Linked DNA regions of Homo sapiens: region 2 is linked to region 1. Evidence: fine-mapped expression QTL. A gene starts in region 1. The other region holds a variant in brackets. All regions are shown on one strand. Distances are between the middles of the regions.

What was found. PIP is the estimated chance that this variant, and not a neighbour inherited with it, causes the effect.
Region 2: its variant is fine-mapped to the expression of CFAP92 in whole blood (INTERVAL, PIP above 0.99).

Annotation. Positions count from the first base shown.
Region 1 is chr3:128,988,611-128,999,338 of GRCh38, forward strand. It overlaps CFAP92 (cilia and flagella associated protein 92 (putative)), which reads right to left and starts at 5,466. Exons shown (of 16, transcript NM_001394090.1): 1 at 5,370-5,466; 2 at 4,433-4,726; 3 at 118-308. The coding sequence starts at 4,694. RefSeq lists an enhancer at 4,134-4,895 and a silencer at 5,472-5,681.
Region 2 is chr3:128,953,491-128,964,218 of GRCh38, forward strand. All of the region lies in intron 9 of CFAP92 (cilia and flagella associated protein 92 (putative)), which reads right to left. Among named protein-coding and RNA genes, the nearest start is that of CFAP92, 35 kb to the right of the region's middle. RefSeq lists an enhancer at 10,647-10,728. The variant T/C (reference allele first, on the strand shown) is at 6,412.

The sequences.
Region 1 (10,728 bases):
GGATCCTCCAATTCTAGCAAGCTGGAGGTGGAGCTGATGTTGCATATCCATGGAGCAGCACACTTTTCGTGATGAGCATCAGACCATACACAAGGCCACACACACTCACACACGCACCTTTACTCCTGACTCCAGGAATACTTTGGCCACCATTGGAAATAGCAATATGTCAACTTTTTTAGGTTCTTCATCGTCCGGCAGAAGGAAATACTCAATGTGGTAAAAACGACGCATCTTTGTAACAGAACTGTCTGTTTTAGGGTGTTTCTTATATTTTTCAATCAAACTTGCATATTTTCCCTTCTGACCTTGAAGATACAGATTGAAAAAGTCTCGTTTTAACCTCATGTGGAAAAGCAGACCCGTCTCCCCAGTTCCCTGGAGCTTGATGTTGTGAGAGGCTGAGCACTCCACATTGCCTGCCCGACTTGGGGAAGGAGGTACAGGTCCAGTGCTCCTAGCCAGCAGAGTAGCACGACCTGGACTGGGCACCTGAGTGCAAAATTTAGGTGCATGGTTTTCAGAGTGAGTGTCTCAGTTGGAGAGTGAGTGTTGGTTAGTAGGCCTAGGGTTAAAAAGGTGATAGAGTTAAAGTGAAATCACATGGCCAGGCCAGATGTTATTAGGAGAGACGCCATACTTGCCTTACCCTGGTCCCTCCTGGCCCTAAGAAGCAGGTAAAAAAAAAAAAAAAAAAAAATCACAGTACAATGTGATTTGTGCAATAATAGCAGCAGGAACAAGGTTGTGAAGAACGAAGGTGGAGGAGAAAACTCTGCATGGGGAGGGTGGGGTGGGCCTCCCAGGGGGACCTTAGCAGAGTCTTAGAGGAGCAAAGCTGGCAGATATTCCAGACAGACAGAGAAAGCAGCTTCACAAAAATGTCATGGGTGAAGCTACCCAATGCGGGGTGGATAGGGTGACAGGATGTGGAAGGTACAGATGGGCTTCTGCCAGAGTCCAGAGCCCAAGGAGCCCCCTGACCCCACCCCTGGTTGCTTACACTCCAGCTTAAACTGCACACTCTAGGTTGGGGCTTTTCACATCATAAGAAGCTCCATAAACATTTAATCCAAATATCATTCTATAAAAACATGACTGTCTTTAAAGCTGTAGTTTTTAAAGTCTAAATTTTTAACCCCAGGAGACTGCTGCAGCATTAATTTTTCTGCTACCAAAATAGTTAGCATTTGTGCAGAGATTGGAGTGAAGCTTCTCCTGCCAGTCTCTGGTAGCATTAGACCTTTTCTGATTCAATCCCAGGTGGGCCAGCAAGTGGACAAACAGAGCCTCTCATTTTCTGTAGACAGAAAGGCAAGTTATTTAGCCCTTTTAAAGGGGAAGTTGACAATATCTATCAAAAACTATTAATACATGCCTTCAATCCAGCAAATTTACTTCTTGGAATACAGGCAACAGAAGTGCCCACATATATGCACAAAAATGGACGTAAAGAATGTCTATCGCAGAATTGCAACAGAAAAACATTTGAAACAACTCAAATATCCACCAATAAGGGGTAGGATAAATTAGAGACATATAATGGAATACTGTTAATATATAGGTGTTTAAAATGAAACAACAAAATTAAAACAAGTATCCTTGCCCAGGCAAAGTGGCTCATGCCTGTAATCCTAGCACTTTGGGAGGCCCAGGCAGGAGGATGATCTGAGGTCAGGAGTTCCAGACCAGCCTGGCCAACATGGCGAAACCCCGTCTCTACTAAAAATACAAAAATTAGCTGGGCATGGTGGCATGTGCCTGTAGTTCCAGCTGCTTGGGAGGCTGAGGCAGGAGAATCGCTTGAACCCAGGAGGCGGAGGTTGCAGTGAGCCAAGATCGCGCCACTGTACTCCAGCCTGGGTGACAGAGAGAGACTCTGTCTAAAAACAAACAAACAAAAACAAGTATCCTTGATCATATTCTCAAAGATAATCTAAATCATGTCAAAACATTTTAAAGTAAGTTGTAGGATCTCATTTCTCTGAAATAAACAATTTATAGGTCGGGCGTGGTGGTTCACGTCTGTAATTCCAGCGTTTTGGAAAGCCAAGGCGGGTGGATCACCTAAGGTCAGGAGTTCAAGACCGGCCTGACCAATATGGTGAAACCCCATCTCTACTAAAAATACAAAAATTAGCTGGGCGTGGTGGCATGTGCCTGTGGTCCCAGCTACTTTGGGAAGCTGAGACAGGAGAATTGCTTGAACCTGGGAGGTGGAGGTTGCAGTGAGCCGAGATTGTGCCACTGAACTCCAGTCTAGGCAACAGAGCAAGACTCCGTCTCAAAAATAAATAAATAAATAATTTATATAAAGAAACATTTATGTACTCATCTGTAAATACTCAGGTATTGAAGGAAAAAAAAATTAAACTAGAATTTTATGTAGAGCCGAAGGTATGTCATTTAAAGGTATTGGCATGATAAAAAAATACTCTTAGGCACACAAGGTCTCATGAAGTTTTGCCCCACAGAGATCCATTTTATAAATGCCTTTAGAGGACAACAACAACAAAAACAAAAACATGCTTAGAAGATGCTGTGAAAGAGATGAGGGCTAAAGGAGGTCAAGTGCCAATTTTCTTTTGGTTGGTATTTGCCAGATGTCTTTTTCCAGGCTCTTTTGCTTTATAGCAATAGACCCAAGAGTAAAGGCATCATTTTAGACAGGAATGGTCACCATAAAATGACAAAAAGTTCAGTTCACCAAGAAGATGGAGCAGTTCTAAACATACTATACACCCAACCAGTCGGCCTCCAAAATAGCTGAAGCAACCATCTGTAAGACTCTCCCCAGGGCCTGAAAGCTTAAGGAGATGAATAACTCCTCCCTTCTCAAGCCTAGTCCCAAGGCGTAAGGTCACTTACGTCAGCAGCGTGCACCAGCAAAATAGCAGAAGCAGGAGGAGAGCCGGCTGGAATACACCTACCCTGGCCGGAAGACATGAAGATGAGAAAGAGGCCATCCGGGTACAGCGTAGCAGTTACGCCAGACTAGGACACTTCCTGTTTACAGGAGACTATAAAACCTTTGCCCCGTCCTCACTTGGGGCTGACGCCATTTTAGGCCTCAGCCGGCCTGCACCAAGGCGTTCATTGAAACAGCATGTTGCTCCACACCGCCTCGTGTTGTCTGTTGGTGCGCTCTCGGGGTTCCAACCCATACAAGAAACTTACACCATCGACAGAATACCAGGAGAAGTTGAAATCATAATGGTGGGCTAGTTCAAGTAAGCAGATGAAAACAAAACAAAGCAAGGTCTATCAAGATGTGAAGTACTACTTGTCTCCTCCCCTCATATTGGGCTGGAACCATGTGACTTGGTTTGGCCAATAAAATGCTAGCAGGTGGGAGACACTCAAAGACTTGAGGAGTGTTTGTGGGGCTAGGCTTGCCCTCCTGTGTGTCCGTGTTTCTAGAACAAGAAGGGGTCTAGGATAGCCCACTGGTCCAGGAGGAAAAGGAGCAGCATGAAGCAGAGCTGAGCTGTTGCAGAACCCAGCCTAGACCAGCGCCCAGCACCTCCAGGAGAACCTCAGGTTCCTGTGTGCAGCCATGAGCTTGGGGGCTTGTTTGGGTTTGTTGCACCGCATTTTTGTGGCAATAGCTAATTGATACACCTTTACATTCAGAGATTGATTCAACAGATCAGAGAAAATGTATTTTTTGGCCGGGTGCGGTGGCTCATGCCTGTAATCCCAGCACTTTGGGAGGCTGAGGCAGGAGGATGACCTGAGGTCAGGGGTTCGAGACCATTCTGGCCAACATGGTGAAACCCAGTCTCTACTAAAAATACAAAAATTAGATGGGTGTGGTGGCGTGCACCTGTAATCCCAGCTACTTGGGAGGCTGAGGCACGAGAATTGCTTGAACCCGGAAGGCTGAGGTTGCAGTGAGCTGAGATCGCACCACTGCACTCCAGCCTGGTGACAGAGCAAGACTCCATCTCAATAAAAAAAGAATTATTATTTTTTTTTTTTTTGACAGAGTTTTGCTCTTGTTGCCCAGGCTGGAGTGCAATGGCGTGATCTCTGCTCACCACAACCTCCACCTCCGGGGTTCAAGAGACTCTCCTGCCTCAGACTCCCGGAAAATGTATTTTAAACAAGGTATTAGGTGATGCACAAGCGCTTATGAGAATCAATGCCTTAACCTCTCCATGGTTTTTTTTTCTTCTGTAAAAAGCAGACAGAACATCACCTGCTTTAGGGTTGTTGAGAGGATTAAGTATGTGAAGCTGATGCAGCCACAGTTGGGCCTCTCCTAAAATTGCTGTTTCTTTTCAACCTCTGCTCCTGGCTGGCACTGGCCAGCCCGCTTTGGGGTGGGGCAGGTGGAGAGAGGATGTGGGGTGTATGCGCCCTAAACTCCTGCAGAAAGTCATGCACCTCCTTTTTTCAGAGGGTGTTAAACTTCTGCTCTAGCACCTACCCATATTCACAGGGAAGGCCAGTGAGATGGTGAATTTGCAGGGGACCACGTGGGGCACGTCGGAGCTGAAAGTGCTGGCAGGCTCAGATGAGGACTCGATGCTGCTGCACGGGCGGTCAGAGTCAGACTCCTGGGCCCTGGCCTTGGCCTTCAGGTGTTCCTCCACGTCACACTCGCTCGTGGACTGGTAAAAGCTAGTGATGGAGGAGATGGGCTCTATGCTTGCGGGGTCCTCTTCCCACTCCCAGGCATGTAGCGACATGCTGCAGAGCGCACTGCTGGCCGCCGGCGCTCCTGGCAGGGAGAAAGTGAAGGCTGTCCCCGCCTGTATTCCAGGGCTGCTCCAGGAGGTAAGCCCGGCCTCCTGCAGAAGCACCCACCCTTCTCTTCCCTGCTTCCCCCGCCTGCTCCTAGATGAACGCCGGGGCTCCTTCACTGCCTGCCACACAGTCGGTACTCAATCGACTTAGAGAATGAATGGATGAAGGAACAACAGATAAGGGTGGCTGGCAGTAAGCACGACGACGAGCAACCCCGTTTCCTTCGCCTAACCAGGAGTCAGTCGCCGGGCTTCTGGAATGCCTGCCCCAGGTGAGCAGCTCCCGGGAGCCACCAGGCGGGAGAGGGGACGTCTGCTCAGGCAGGCCTGCTGCGCCTAAGCACAAGATGCGTTTGCTATTTGGGGAGAGGCAAACCAGGCCGGGGGCAGCACGTGCAGGAGCCTGGCGAGGTCGGGGAGGGCAAGCCCTGTCCCCAAGACAGAACATGAATGTGCACTGGGTGCTGGGCTCGGGGCATCAGCTCAGGCCCATGGAGGCGGAACGCCGGGCAAACGCCGAAGAGGGAACACGCATCGAGGCGAGGCGGGAAGAGTCCCGGGCTGCGGCGGCCGAGGTGGGGGCAGGGGTCGGGGTTCCCCTCCAGGTGCTGGCGGTACCTGCGAGCGGATGCGCTGGGCGGCAGCGGGGAGTTGGACCGCGGCGGCAACTCCCGTACCGGATCCACAGCCACCTGGGCGAAGAGACTCCAAGACTGAGAGGAGCGTCCGCCGGTGCAGGGAGGGCCGCAGGCCCAGCCACTCAGCTACGTTTGGCGGTTGCTAGGAGACGCGAGGGCGTGCGGCCTGGGGGCGGGGCTCCGCGGGGCGGGGCTTTCCCCCTCAGCCACTGCGCGCAGTTTGTCAAATGGCTACATCCAGGTTCAGAAACCAGCTGCCTTCATTCCTTCACTCATGCATTCACTCATTAAGGAGTTTCTACTCGGAACGTCAGCACCTACTATAAGCCTGGTCCTTGCCCGTACGATGGGAGGTAGGGGTTGATGGCTCCTTCCTCCCCCTCCATCAGCTCCCACCTCCCATTCTTTAATAAAAGCAAAGGAAGCTGTGGGCTCTGCAAACTCCAGACCTCCCCACGATCCCTCTCATTAGATTCTCTGCTTCTGTCGCCGATGTCCTTAAAAACCAGACCTCCCCACGATCCCTCTCATTAGATTCTCTGCTTCTGTCGCTGATGTCCTTAAAATAGCATGAGAATTCTTGTTAGTGATCATGAGCGCCAACTCAGAGATCAGAAAACAAAGCTTAGAGAGGTGAAGCGATTCGCCCGAGGTCACACAGCAAGTAGGGCGCAGCACTGTGTTGAAATCCGGACTGCCTGACTCCAAAGCCTCCGCTCGTCTGCTAAACCACCCAAGCTGAGAGCCCTGGCTGCGGCTCCTAATGTAGAGGACCTCAGCACAGCAAGCGGCTGGGACAGAGGGCTGGGGTAGGCCTCATGGAGGAAGTGAGCAACGCCAAATCTGGGGGGTGACTAGGCAGAGGCGGTGAAAGCAAGAGAAAGCATCCCAGGTAGAGGAACAGCATATGCAAAGGCCCATAGAGGTGAAAGGGCATGGCAAGTTTCAGGAATGGGTGGCGAGGCTGTAGCAGTGTGCAGGGCCCATGGTACATAGCCCCACAGGGCAGGTTAGGGCACAGGACTATGGGCAATGGGGAGCCAAGGCAGGTCTTCTGTTGAGGGAGGGCACCCTGCTCCGGCAGTCAGTTTGTTCAAGAGAATGGGAGCTGAGGCTACACACAAGCTTGGCTATTAAGAAAACTTTAGCTGAGTTGAGCTATGACCTACTTTGTGTCAAAGAGCAAAACTGTGGCGCAGCTGGGGCTGAGACCCAAGTCCTGAGCCTCCCAGTGCATGCCTCCCCAGACCGCTCTCAGGGCATGGGACAGCCCCTTTAATACTGGGTGCTCCAATACTCCTCGGGTTCAGTCTGAAAAACAGCCTCAAGTACAGCTGTTAGGGAAGACACCAAATGGCAGTGGGCCCTGTGAGGAGTGGGTTCAAACTCTTAGCACGAGAACGGCAACCACCTTGCCCACACCCCACCTGCAGCAGCCTGGAGACTGCTGTCTGTATGCCAGGAAGTGCTCAGGAGACACATGAAGGGCTGGAAGAATACAAAGCTACTCAGATACACCAGCCCCCAAAAGGGCCCTTTAACAAGGGCAGTTCAACACTACCACCACTCTTGGACAGACATCAGGCCTCCTGCTCCCCAGGTCCTACCCACTGGCCTGAGGCTGGTTTCCCTCCAAAGGTTCCTAGATCACATCACCACCTAGGACAGAAGCCAATCTCTTCCCAAGCTCAATAGTGAGAGGCCAGAGGTCTTGGACCAAGGGCCAATGTGCCATCCTGGATGTGCACTGGAAACACCTACATGTCAAAAATACAATTCTGAGGCTTCATTAAAGACCTGTGGAAGTGACTCTCCAGGGGTGGAGCTTAGAAACCAGTGGCAGATTGTATTTTCCAAAGACAGCCACCTCAAAAGATCCCCTCCCACATAATCTTCCGGCAGGCATTGTGAGGTTCACATTCCTCCCACCCAGTTGGGGGGTCTAGTCTCCTTCTCTGGAAACTGGGCAGACCTCTGTGACTGGCTCAGTCAAAAGAGTGCAGAGGAAATGACACTATGTGATTTCTGAGGCCAGGTCATATAAATTCCATCTACCTCTGCCCTGTTCTTTTGAGGTATAGTATTCATGCTAGGAATCCAGCTAGCATGTTGTGAGGAAGCCCAAGCAGCCATGTGAAATGGCCACATGAAACTGTTGTGACTGACGGTTCCCAGCCAATTGCAGCCTCAACCCCCAGACATATGAGAGTGCAAGACTTCAAATGATCCCAGCCCTCAGTCTTTGAGCCACCCTGGCTGACATTGAGGAACAGAAACAAGCTGTCTCCATCATGAGAAATTGTAGATTTATAAGCAAATTGTTGCTCTCTTAAACCACTAAGTTTTGGGGTGATTTGTTGTGCAATAAATAATAGGAACGGGAGCCATATTTTTAAATTACCACCAAGATTGTATTGCACAACCAGAATATGGAACCACTGCCCTGAGAGAGATGGTGTCTGGGTCAAGACCTAGGGCATCACAGGATGAAGTGAGGGCAAAGGTGTGCTACCCACTACTCAGGTATGAGACAGTGGTGGGTCTACAACCCTACCTCAGTGAAGATGGCTTCAGGGCTGGCAGATCAGAAGCAAAGGAAGGGGGGCTTCTGTTTCAGTTATCTGTTACTGAGTAAAAACCATCCCCAAACTTAATGGTGTCAAACAAACACTTGTTATTTCTCACCACTCCATGCATCAGCTGAGTAGTTCTCTGCTGGCCTCGCCTGGGCTCACTCCCTATGCTGTGCTCAGCTGGAGGACCAACATGGCTGGAAGCTGCCAGAAGTCCTCACTTGCATGTCTGGCAGTTGCTGCTGGCTCTTCGTGGGCCCGCTGGTTCCCCTCCATGGGTTCCCCCGCCCCCAGTGGTACACCAGCTTCCTTCTATGTGGTGCCTCATCTCCTCATAGCCCGGCCTGGCTTCCTCAGATGGCATTCTCAGAGCAGGGATCCCAGAGGGCAAAGAAGAAGTTGCAAGGCCTCTTGGGACCTAGGCGTGGAACCAGCACCATGTCACTCTGCTACATGCCATTAACCAAAGCAAGTCATGAGGCTGGCCCCACTTCAAGGGGATGAAGACATGGACTGTACATCTGGTAAGCAGAGGGACAAGCATCCAGGGGCAGGAGGTGTTCAAGGTCACTGAACAATCCATCCCTTCATCCTTACTCTGCCGGGTGGAGGGTTCCCAAGCTCCCACAGGCTATGTAGAGGCCTTCCTGAAGCTATCCCAAGACTCTGGCAGCTGGAAGCATATTGGGAATCAGCTACATACACCTTCTTCTTGCCCCTTCCCCATTTTTAACAGCTTTATTGAAGTATTTTTTATTTAATAAAATCCATCCATTTCAAGCGTAGAATTCAATGATTTTCAGTAACTTTACCTAGTGCTGTAATCATCATCATAAATTCATTTTAGAACATTTTCATCCCCCTAATAAGACTTCATGCACATTTATAATTAATCTCTGTTCCAACTCCCAGTCCTAGGCAACCATATCTACTTTGTTTCTAAAAATTGGCCTTTTCTAGACATTTCCTATAAATTGAGTCAGACACTGTGTTCTGGCTTTGTGACTGGTTTCTTTCACCTACCGTTATGTTTCCAAGGTTTATTTATGTTGAGGCATGTGTCAGTATTTCATTCCTTTTCATGACTGAATAATATTCTATTGTATGGACAGACCACAGTTTGCCTATCCATTCATCAGTTAATGGGCATTTGGCTTGGGCATTTAGACATTTATGAACAACGTTGCTATGAACATTCCCACACAAGTCTTTGTGTGGATGTGTTTTCATCTCTCTTGGGTCGATATCTAGGAGTGGAAGAGTTGGGTCGTATGGTCATTTTGTGATTAACTTCTTGAGAAACTGCCAAACTATCTTCCACAGGGGCTGCATCATTTTGTGTTCCCATCAACAACATGAAGTTTCCTGTTTCTCCAAATTCTTGACAAGATTTATTGCCTGTTTTATTCACTACAGCTATTCTCATGAGTATAATATAGTATTTCATCATAGTTTTCATGTGCATTTCCCTAACAAGAATACTGAGATTGTTTTATGCACATGTTGGCTATTTATACAACTTCTTTGGTGAAATGTCTGTTTGTATCTTCACCCACTTTTTGATTGGATTGTTTGTCTTCTTGTTACTGAGTTGTTAAGAGTTCATTGTAAATTCGGAATATAAGTCCTTTACTGGGCATATGTTTTACAAATATTTTCTCCTAGTCTCTTGTTCGTCATATTTTCTTAATAGTGTCTTTTGAAGTGCAAATGTTTTGAACTTTGATGAAGGTCCGATTCATCATTTTTTTCTTTTTTGGATCATGCATTTGGTGTCGTATCTAAGAAATCTTTGACTAACAACAGGCCTATTTTTAATAGAAGTAAAGCTTGGTGTCTGAACACTAAGCAAATCTACTAACCAAGACCCCTAAAAACCCAAAAGCTTTATGACACTGAAAATAATGGCCCAAGGACATTCCCAGACAGTTCTGGGCTCTGGATAGAACAACACAAGTTTCCAAAAAACAGGCTGATAATACCACAAGCTTATAAAATATGTATACTCCTTGGCCCAGTAATAAATCACTCAAGATATGGCACAAACTGTTCACAGTATGGTTTTTGCGGAGAAAAGCTGAAAACCACCTCAGTGGGCATCTGTGGGGGATGACAAAGCACCTTATAGTTCATCCCCAGGGAGCACAGAGCAGCCTCTGGAGCAGTGTCTGCAAAGAAACCACAGCCAAGCTGTTTACAAAGCTCAGTTCCTGTGCAAAGAAAGATCCCAATGGCGCCCTTTCCACTGTGCTTTTCATGTCAAGTTGAATGAGCTACGATTTGCACACTGTAAAATTCAGATGTACACAGTCATGCAACCACTACACCATGAAGATAGAGTATTTCAATCACTCCAAAAAGTTCTTTCATGCCCAAATACATAGAAAAGTCTGGAAATAAATACATCAGAAATACACAGTGATCCTCTCTTGGTGGCAGAATGGTGGATGATTTTTGCTTTTTAGCATTTTCCCGGACCTTTAAAAGACACTTTAAACAATATACTATTTGAAATGGCTCAAACAATACTGAACTGACTTCAGAAAATCATTTCTTTGCCACAGCCCTGACTCTCTCCCACACAGACACACGCCCATCCCCCCAGCTCATACAAAAGAACGCAAGGAGACCTCTGAGTTTGCTCACTTTGAACCTTAAACAAAAACCTTGTGGATGCAACCAGAATTATTTCAGAGGTGCCTGGTAACACCGCAGGGCAGACAGACAGGCCTGACAGCAAACCATTATCAACCCTTACTTCCCTGA
Region 2 (10,728 bases), 35 kb before region 1:
GGCGACAGAGCAAGACTCTGTCTCAAGAAAATAAAAAGAAAGAGGGATAATCACTCGCTTAAGAAGCAGCAACACGGTCTCCCTCTCCCTCTCCCTCTCCCTCTCCCTCCCCCTCTCCCTCTCCCTCTCCCTCCCTCTCCGTCTCCCTCTCCCCACGGTCTCCCTCTCATGCGGAGCCGAAGCTGGACTGTACTGCTGCCATCTCGGCTCACTGCAACCTCCCTGCCTGATTCTCCTGCCTCAGCCTGCCGAGTGCCTGCGATTGCAGGCACGCGCCACCACGCCTGACTGGTTTTGGTGGAGACGGGGTTTCGCTGTGTTGGCCGGGCCGGTCTCCAGCCCCTAACCGCGAGTGATCCGCCACCCTCGGCCTCCCGAGGTGCCGGGATTGCAGACGGAGTCTCGTTCACTCAGTGCTCAATGGTGCCCAGGCTGGAGTGCAGTGGCGTGATCTCGGCTCACTACAACCTCCACCTCCCAGCCGCCTGCCTTGGCCTCCCAAAGTGCCGAGATTGCAGCCTCTGCCCGGCCGCCACCCCGTCTGGGAAGTGAGGAGTGTCTCTGCCTGGCCGCCCATCGTCTGGGATGTGAGGAGCCCCTCTGCCCGGCCGCCCAGTCTGGGAAGTGAGGAGCGTCTCCGCCCGGCCGCCATCCCATCTAGGAAGTGAGGAGCGCCTCTTCCCAGCCGCCATCACATCTAGGAAGTGAGGAGCGTCTCTGCCCGGCCGCCCATCGTCTGAGATGTGGGGAGCGCCTCTGCCCCACCGCCCCATCTGGGATGTGAGGAGCGCCTCTGCCCGGCCGAGACCCCGTCTGGGAGGTGAGGAGCGTCTCTGCCCGGCCGCCCCGTCTGAGAAGTGAGGAGACCCTCTGCCTGGCAACCACCCCGTCTGAGAAGTGAGGAGCCCCTCCGCCCGGCAGCTGCCCCGTCTGAGAAGTGAGGAGCCTCTCCGCCCAGCAGCCACCCCATCTGGGAAGTGAGGAGCATCTCCGCCCGGCAGCCACCCTGTCCGGGAGGGAGGTGAGGGGGGGTCAGCCCCCCGCCCGGCCAGCCGCCCCATCCGGGAGGGAGGTGGGGGGTCAGCCCCCCGCCCGGCCAGCCGTGCCATCCGGGAGGGAGGTGGGGGGGTCAGCCCCCCGCCCGGCCAGCCGCCCGGTCCGGGAGGTGAGGGGCGCCTCTGCCCGGCCGCCCCTACTGGGAAGTGAGGAGCCCCTCTGCCCGGCCAGCCGCCCCGTCCGGGAGGGAGGTGGGGGGGTCAGCCCTCCGCCCGGCCAGCCGCCCCGTCTGGGAGGTGAGGGGCGCCTCTGCCCGGCCGCCCCTACTGGGAAGAGAGGAGCCCCTCTGCCCGGCCAGCCGCCCCGTCCGGGAGGGAGGTGGGGGGGTCGGCCCCCCGCCCGGCCAGCCGCCCCGTCCGGGAGGGAGGTGGGGGTGTCGGCCCCCCGCCCGGCCAGCCGCCCCGTCCGGGAGGGAGGTGGGGCGGTCAGCCCCCCTGCCCGGCCAGCCGCCCCGTCCGGGAGGTGAGGGGCGCCTCTGCCCGGCCACCCCTACTGGGAAGTGAGGAGCCCCTCTGCCCGGCCAGCCGCCCCGTCCGCGAGGGAGGTGGGGGGGTCAGCCCCCCGCCCGGCCAGCCGCCCCGTCCGGGAGGGAGGTGGGGGGGGTCAGCCCCCCTGCCCGGCCAGCCGCCCCGTCCGGGAGGGAGGTGGGGGGGGTCAGCCCCCCTGCCCGGCCAGCCGCCCCGTCCGGGAGGTGAGGGGCGCCTCTGCCCGGCCGCCCCTACTGGGAAGTGAGGAGCCCCTCTGCCCGGCCAGCTGCCCCGTCCGCGAGGGAGGTGGGGGGGTCAGCCCCCCCGCCCGGCCAGCCGCCCCGTCCGGGAGGGAGGTGGGGGGGGGTCAGCCCCCCTGCCCGGCCAGCCGCCCCGTCCGGGAGGTGAGGGGCGCCTCTGCCCGGCCGCCCCTACTGGGAAGTGAGGAGCCCCTCTGCCTGGCCAGCCGCCCCGTCCGGGAGGGAGGTGGGGGGGTCAGCCCCCCGACCGGCCAGCCGCCCCATCCGGGAGGGAGGTGGGGGGGTCAGCCCCCCGCCCGGCCAGCCGCCCCGCCCAGGAGGTGAGGGGCGCCTCTGCCCGGCCGCCCCTACTGGGAAGTGAGGAGCCCCTCTGCCCAGCCACCACCCCGTCTGGGAGGTGTGCCCAACAGCTCATTGAGAACGGGCCAGGATGACAATGGCGGCTTTGTGGAATAGAAAGGCGGGAAAGGTGGGGAAAAGATTGAGAAATCGGATGGTTGCCGTGTCTGTGTAGAAAGAAGTAGACATGGGAGACTTTTCATTTTGTTCTGCACTAAGAAAAATTCCTCTGCCTTGGGATCCTGTTGATCTGTGACCTTACCCCCAACCCTGTGCTCTCTGAAACATGTGCTGTGTCCACTCAGGGTTAAATGGATTAAGGGCGGTGCAAGATGTGCTTTGTTAAACAGATGCTTGAAGGCAGCATGCTCGTTAAGAGTCATCACCAATCCCTAATCTCAAGTAATCAGGGACACAAACACTGCGGAAGGCCGCAGGGTCCTCTGCCTAGGAAAACCAGAGACCTTTGTTCACTTGTTTATCTGCTGACCTTCCCTCCACTATTGTCCCATGACCCTGCCAAATCCCCCTCTGTGAGAAACACCCAAGAATTATCAATAAAAAAATAAATTAAAAAAAAAAATAAAAAAAAAATAAAAAAATAAAAAAAAAAAAAGAAAATAGAAAGAAAAAAAGAAATTACCCAATCTGAACAACACAGGGGAAAAAAGACACAAAAATCAAAATCAGAACTTCAGGGCCCTGTGGGACTAAAACAAAAGAACTAATATTCATGTCATTGGAGTTTCAGAAGGAGAGGAGAAAAAAGGTGGTGCTGAAAAGTATTCCAATAAATAATGGCTAAAATTTTCTCAAATTTGGCAAAATACATAAGCCTATAGATTCAAAGAGCTGAGAGAACCCCAAATAAGATAAACACAAAGAAATCCACACCAAGACATGTCATAGTCAAACTTCTGTAAATTAATGACAAAGAAAGAAAATCTTGAAAGCTGCAAGAGATAAATGCCACCTTACTTATAGGGAAAAAAAAGTAATTTGAATGACAGCAGATTTCCCATCAGAAACTGTAGTGGTAAGAAGAAAGTGGTATAACATTTTTCAAGTGTTAAAAAAAAAAATCCAGCCAGGCACAGTGGCTCACACCTGTAACCCCAGCACTTTGGGAGGCCGAGGTGCGTGCATCACCTGAGGTCAGGAGTTTGACACTAGCCTGGCTAACATGGTGAAATTCTGTCTCTACTAAAAATACAAAAATTAGCCAGGCATGGTGGTGCATGCTCATAATCCCAGCTACTCAGGAGGCTGAGGCAGGAGAATCACTTGAACCCAGGAGGCAGACGTTGCAGTGAGCCAACATCATGCCACTACACTCCAGCCTGGGTGACAGAGCCAGACTCTCTCAAAAAAAAAAAAAAAAAAAAGAAATCAACCCCATTCTATACCAATTCTATATCCAGTAAGACTATCCTTCCAGAATGAAGGAAAAATAAAAACACCCTGAGACAAAGAACAACTAAAAGAATTTGTTTTCAGCAGATTTATCCTAGAAGAAAGGCGAAAGGAAGTTCTTGAAACAGAAAGGAAATGACAAAAGAAGTCTTGGAACATTAGAAAGGAAGAAAGGATAATGGAATAAGTAGAACCACGGGTAAACAAATACACTTTCCTTCAACCCTTGAGTTTTCTAGGTTATGTGTTATGTTTGACAGTTGAAGCAAAAAGTATAACATCATCTCATGTGGTTATCAATCTATGTAGAGGAAATATTTAGGGAAACTAAAGGGGTATGGAGGGAGGTAAAGTTTCTATATTTCACTCAAACTGGTAAAATATTGATACCAAGAGATTGCGAAAAGTTATGTTATGCGTTAAATATAATATCCAGAGTGCCACTAAAAATCTATACCAAGAGATATAAATTCAAAAATACTACAGATAAATCAAAATGGAATTCTAAAAATGGGTCAAGTAACCCACAAGAAAGCAGGAATAAAAACCAAGAGAAACAAAAAAACAGAAGGAACAGACAGAAAACAAAAATTAAAATGGTAGACTTAAGCTCTAATATATCAACATTTACTCTAAATATAATGGTCTAAATACGTCAATTAAAAGGCAGAGTAAATAAAGAAACATGACCAAACTACATGCAAGGCCATTATCCTGGAGTGGGGGAGAAGGCCAGTCTCAAAAGGTCACATGCTGGATGTTTTCATTTATATAACCACACCAGTTTCCTACGAAGCGCCATAAACTGGGGGGGGGCTTAAAATGACAGAAATTTATTGTCTCCCTGTTCTGAGGCTAGAAGTCAGAAATTAAGCTGTTGGCAGGGCCACATTTCCTCAGAAGGTGCTCAGGAAGGTCCTTCCTTGCCTCTTCCAGCTTCTGGTGGCCCCAGATGTCCCCTGGCATGTGGCAGCATCCACTTTCCATGTGGCGTTCTCTGTGTGTCACTTTGCATAGTCTTCCCTCTACGTGTGTCTGTCTCTGGGTCCAATTTTCCCCCTTTCATAAGGATACCCTAATGACCTCATTTCAACTTGACTACCTCTGCAAAGACCCTCTTTCCAAATAAGATCACATTCTGAGATACTGGGCGTTAGGAGTTCAACATACCATTTTTTGGAGGAACACAATTCAATCCTTAACAATAACATTTTCAAATTGACAAAAGTATAGAGATAGCAAATTAGTGGTTAGGGATGGTGGGTGTTAGGGGTTGTTGTGACTATAAAAGGGTAGCACGAAGGAGATCTTTGTGATGATAGAATATTTCTACATCTCAAGTGCTGTGACAGTTACATACATGTACAATAAAATGGCACAGACCTATATACACATTAGACTCATGTCAATGTGCTGATTTTGATATTGTGCTATAGTTATGAAACACCTAATTACTGAGGAAATTGGACAAAGGATACATGGGACCTCTCTGTACTGTCTTTGCAACTTTCCGTGAATCTATATTTTAAAGTATGACATATGTATATGGACATACTCACACTAAGACACACAAGCAGTTTCAGAAGACAAAAAGGGCTGGCACTGTGGCTTACACCTATAATCCTAGCACTTTGGGAGGCCACGGCAGGAGGATCACTTGATCCCAGGAGTTCAGGACCAGCCTGCGCAACATGGCAAAACCCTGTCTCTACAAAAAATACAAAAACTAGCTGGGTGTGGTGGCGTGTGCCTGCAGTCTCAGCTACTAGGGAGGCTAAGGCAGGAGGATCACCTGAGCCCAGGAGGTTGAGGCTGCAGTAAGTTATGATCACACCACTGCACTCCAGACAGGGCAGTGGAGTGAGACCCTGTCTCAAAAAAATTTTTTTAAAAAAGGAGACAAGGTTGGACGCAGTGGCTGACACCTGTAATCCCAACACTTTGGGAGGCCAAGGCAGGTGGATCACCTGAGGTCAGGAGTTTGAGACCAGATTGACCAACATGGAGAAACCCTGTCTCTACTAAAAATACAAAATTAGCCGGGCGTGGTGGCAAATGCCTGTAATCCCAGCTACTCGGGAGGCTGAGGCAGAAGAATCGCTTGAACCCAGGAGGTGGAGGTTGTGGTGAGCTGAGATTGCACCCCTGCACTCCAGCCTGGGCAACAAGAGCAAAATTCTGCCTCAAATAAATAAATAAATAAAATAAAAAAGACGACAAAAAGGATTTTATAAGCATTTGGAGAAACAAAAAACAGTTCGCATACAAAGGTTCAACTTCAATGAAAATAAAAGATGATGGAACAATGCCTTCAAAACTCTGAAGGCAAATGATTTTTAGCCTAGAATTCTATATGCAGCCAAACTACCAGTCATGTGTAAGGATAAAAAAAGGTAGAAAAAAATATATCTGCAGACATATGAGATCTCAAAAATAAATCTCCCATTGACCTTTTCTCGAGAAGCTACTAGAGGATGCACTCCAGCAAAACCAGACAGCAAATAAAGGGAGAGAATTCAGGAGACAGGGATCCAACCAGAAGAGGGAACAAGGAACTCACAGAATAAACAGCAGTGCTGAACCTGGTTGGTTCACAATGAGTGAGCATCCCGCTGGCAACTGCCACAGGAAGAGGGAAGCCTGGGGGCTCCTGAAGGGAGGTTCATGACCTGCATGTGAAGAGCACCTGCGGCATAGTAGGAGACCTCAGGACTGGTCACACCTAATCCCAGGAACCCCATCTCTTTTGTATCTCACTGTGGGATCCTAAATGGTAAAATACAGGTGATAACTGTCAGGCCTCTGAGCCCAGGCCAGGCCATCACATCCCCTGTGACTTGCACGTATACATCCAGATGGCCTGAAGTAACTGAAGA[T/C]CCACAAAAGAAATAAAAACAGCCTTAACTGATGACATTCCACCATTGTGATTTGTTCCCGCCCCACCCTAACTGATCAATGTACTTTGTAGTCTCCCCCACCCTTAAGAAGGTTCTTTGTAATTCTCCCCACTCTTGAGAATGTATTTTGTGAGATCCACCCCTGCCCACCAGAGAACAACCCCCTTTGACTGTAATTTTCCATTACCTTCCCAAATCCTATAAAACGGCCCCACTCCCTTCGCTGACTCTCTTTTCGGACTCAGCCCGCCTGCACCCAGGTGAAATAAACAGCCATGTTGCTCACACAAAGCCTGTTTGGTGGTCTCTTCACACGGACGCGCATGAAATGTGGTGCCGTGACTCGGATCGGGGGACCTCCCTTGGGAGATCAATCCCCCGTCCTCCTGCTCTTTGCTCCGTGAGAAAGATCCACCTCTATGACCTCAGGTCCTCAGACCGACCAGCCCAAGAAACATCTCACCAATTTCAAATCCGGTAAGCGGCCTCTTTTGACTCTCTTCTCCAACCTCCCTCACTATCCCTCAACCTCTTTCTCCTTTCAATCTTGGTGCCACACTTCAATCTCTCCCTTAATTTCAATTCCTTTCATTTTCTGGTAGAGACAAAAGAGACACGTTTTATCCGTGGACCCAAAACTCCGGCGCCGGTCACGGACTGGGAAGGCAGCCTTCCCTTGGTGTTTAATCATTGCAGGGACGCTCTCTGATTATACACCCACGTTTCAAGGGTGTCAGACCACGCAGGGACGCCTGCCTTGGTCCTTCACCCTTAGCGGCTAGTCCCGCTTTTCTGGGGAAGGGGCAAGTACCCGTGAACCCCTTCTCCTTCACCCTCAGCGGCAAGTCCCGCTTTCCTGGGGCAGGGGCAAGTACCCCTCAACCCCTTCTCCTTCACCCTCAGCGGCAAGTCCCACTTTCCTGGGGCAGGGGCAAGTACCCCTCAACCCCTTCTCCTTCACCCTTAGCGGCAAGTCCCGCTTTTCTAGGGGGCAAGAACCCCCAAACCCCTTCCCTCCGGGTCTCTATGCTCTCTTTTCTCTGGGTTTGCTTCCTTCACTATGGGCAACCTTCCACCCTCCATTCCTCCTCCTTCTCCCTTAGCCTGTGTGCTCAAGAACTTAAAACCTCTTCAACTCACACCTGACCTAAAACCTAAATGCCTTATTTTCTTCTGCAATGCCGCTTGACCCCAATACAAACTCAACAGTAGTTCCAAATAGCCAGAAAATGGCACTTTAAATTTTTCCATCCTGCAAGATCTAAATAATTCTTGTCGTAAAATAGGCAAACGGTCTGAGGTGCCTGACGTCCCGGCATTCTTTTACACATCAGTCCCTTCCTAGTCGCTGTGCCCAGGGCAACTCCTCCCAAATCTTCCTTCTTTCCCTCCCGCCTGTCCCCTCAGTCCCAACCCCAAGCATCACTGACTCTTTCTAATCTTCCTTTTCTACAGACCCATCTGACCTCTCCCCTCCTCACCAGGCCGAGCTAGGTCCCAATTCTTCCTCAGCCTCCGCTCCTCCACCCTATAATCCTTTTATCACCTCCCCTCCTCACACCTGGTCCTGCTTATGGTTTTCATTCCGTGACTAGCCCTCCCCCACCTGCCCAGCAATTTACTCTTAAAAAGGTGGCTGGAGCTGAAGGCATAGTCAAGGTTAATGCTCCTTTTTCTTTATCCCAAATCAGATAGCGTTTAGGCTCTTTTTCATCAAATATAAAAACCCAACCCAGTTCATGGCAGCAACCCTGAGACGCTTTACAGCCCTAGACCCTAAAAGGTCAAAAGGCTGTCTTATTCTCAATATACATTTTATTACCCAATCTGCTCCCGACATTAAATAAAACTCCAAAAATTAAATTCCGGCCCTCAAACCCCACAACAGGATTGAATTAACCTCTCCTTCAAGGTGTACAATAATAGGAAAAAGTTGCAATTCCTTGCCTCCACTGTGAGACAAATCCCAGCCACATCTCCAGCACACAAGAACTTCCAAACGCCTGAACCGCAGTGGCCAGGTGTTCCTCCAGAACCTCCTCCCCCAGGAGCTTGCTACAAGTGCCAGAAATCTGACCACCAGGCCAAGGAATGCCCGCAGCCCAGGATTCCTCCTAAGCCGTGTCCCATCTGTGCGGGACCCCACTGGAAATTGGACTGTTCAACTCACCTGGCAGCCACTCCCAGAGCCCCTGGAACTCTGGCCCGAGGCTCTCTGACTGACTCCTTCTCGGCTTAGCGGCTGAAGACTGATGCTGCCCGATCGCCTCGGAAGCCCCATAGACCATCACGGACGCCGAGCTTCCGGTAACTCTCACAGCGGAAGGTAAGCCCGTCCCCTTCTTAAGCAATACGGAGGCTACCCACTCCACATTACCTTCTTTTCAAGGGCCTGTTTCCCTTGCCTCCATAACTGTTGTGGGTATTGACAGACAGGCTTCTAAACCTCTTAAAACTCCCCAACTCTGGTGCCAACTTAGACAATACTCTTTTATGCACTCTTTTTTAGTTATCCCCACCTGCCCAGTTCCCTTATTAGACCGAGATATTTTAACCAAATTATCTGCTTCCCTGACTATTCCTGGACTACAGCTGCATCTCATTGCTGCCCTTCTTCCCAATCCAAAGCCTCCTTTGCGTCCTCCTCTTGTATTCCCCCACCTTAACCCACAAGTATAAGAGACCTCTACTCCCTCCTTGGCAACTGATCACGCACCCCTTACCATCTCATTAAAACCTAATCATCCTTACCCCGCTCAATGCCAATATCCTATCCCACAGCACGATTTAAAAGGATTAAAGCCTGTGATCACTCGCCTGCTACAGCACGGGCTTCTAAAACCTATAAACTCTCCTTACCATTCCCCCATTTTACCTGTCCTAAAACCAGACAAGGCTTACAAGTTAGTTCAGAATCTGCGCCTTATCAACCAAATTGTTTTGCCTATCCACCCCGTGGTGCCAAACCCATATACTCTCCTATCCTCAATACCTTCCTCTACTACCCATTATTCTGTTCTGGATCTCAAACATGCTTTCTTTACTATTCCTTTGCACCCGTCATCCCAGCCTCTCTTTGCCTTCACTTAGACTGACCCTGACACCCATTAGGCTCAGCAAATTACCTGGGCTGTACTGCCGCAAGGCTTCACAGACAGCCCCCATTACTTCAGTCAAGCCCAAATTTCGTCCTCATCTGTTACCTATCTTGGCATAATTCTCATAAAAACACATGTGCTCTCCCTGCTGATCGTGTCTGATTAATCTCCCAAACCTCAATCCCTTACAAAAGAACAACTCCTTTCCTTCCTAGGCATGCTTAGTGCGGTCAGAATTCTTAAACAAGAGCCAGGACCACACCGTGTAGCCTTTCTGTCCAAACAACTTGACCTTACTGTTTTAGCCTAGCCCTCATGTCTGCGTGCAGCGGCTGCCGCTGCTTTAATACTGTTAGAGGCCCTAAAAGTCACAAACTATGCTCAACTCACTCTCTACATTTCCCAAAATCTATTTTCTTCCTCATACCTGACGCATATACTTTCTGCTCCCCGGCTCCTTCAGCTGTACTCACTCTTTAAGTCTCACAATTACCATCGTTCCTGGCCCGGACTTCAATCTGGCCTCCCACATTATTCCTGATACCACACCTGACCCCCATGACTGTATCTCTCTGATCCACCTGATATTCACCCCATTTCCCCATATTTCCTTCTTTCCTGTTCCTCACCCTGATCACGCTTGATTTATTGACGGCAGTTCCACCAGGCCTAATCGCCACACACCAGCAAAGGCAGGCTATGCTATAGTACAAGCCACTAGCCCGCCTCTCAGAACCTCTCATTTCCTTTCCATCCTGGAAATCTATCCTCAAGGAAATAACTTCTCAGTGTTCCATCTGCTATTCTACTACTCCTCAGGGATTATTCAGGCCCCCTCCCTTCCCTACACATCAAGCTCGAGGATTTGCCCCCACCCAGGACTGGCAAATTAGCTTTACTCAACATGCCCGAGTCAGGAAACTAAAATACCTCTTAGTTCAAATAGACACTTTCACTGAATAAGTAAAGGCCTTTCCTACAGGGTCTGAGAAGGCCACCGCAGTCATTTCTTCCCTTCTGTCAGACATAATTCCTCAGTTTAGCCTTCCCACCTCTATACAGTCTGATAATAGACCAGCCTTTATTAGTCAAATCAGCCAAGCAGTTTTTCAGGCTCTTAGTAGGTTTCAGTGAAACCTTTATATCCCTTACGGTCCTCCGTCTTCAAGAAAAGTAGAACGGACTAAAGGTCTTTTAA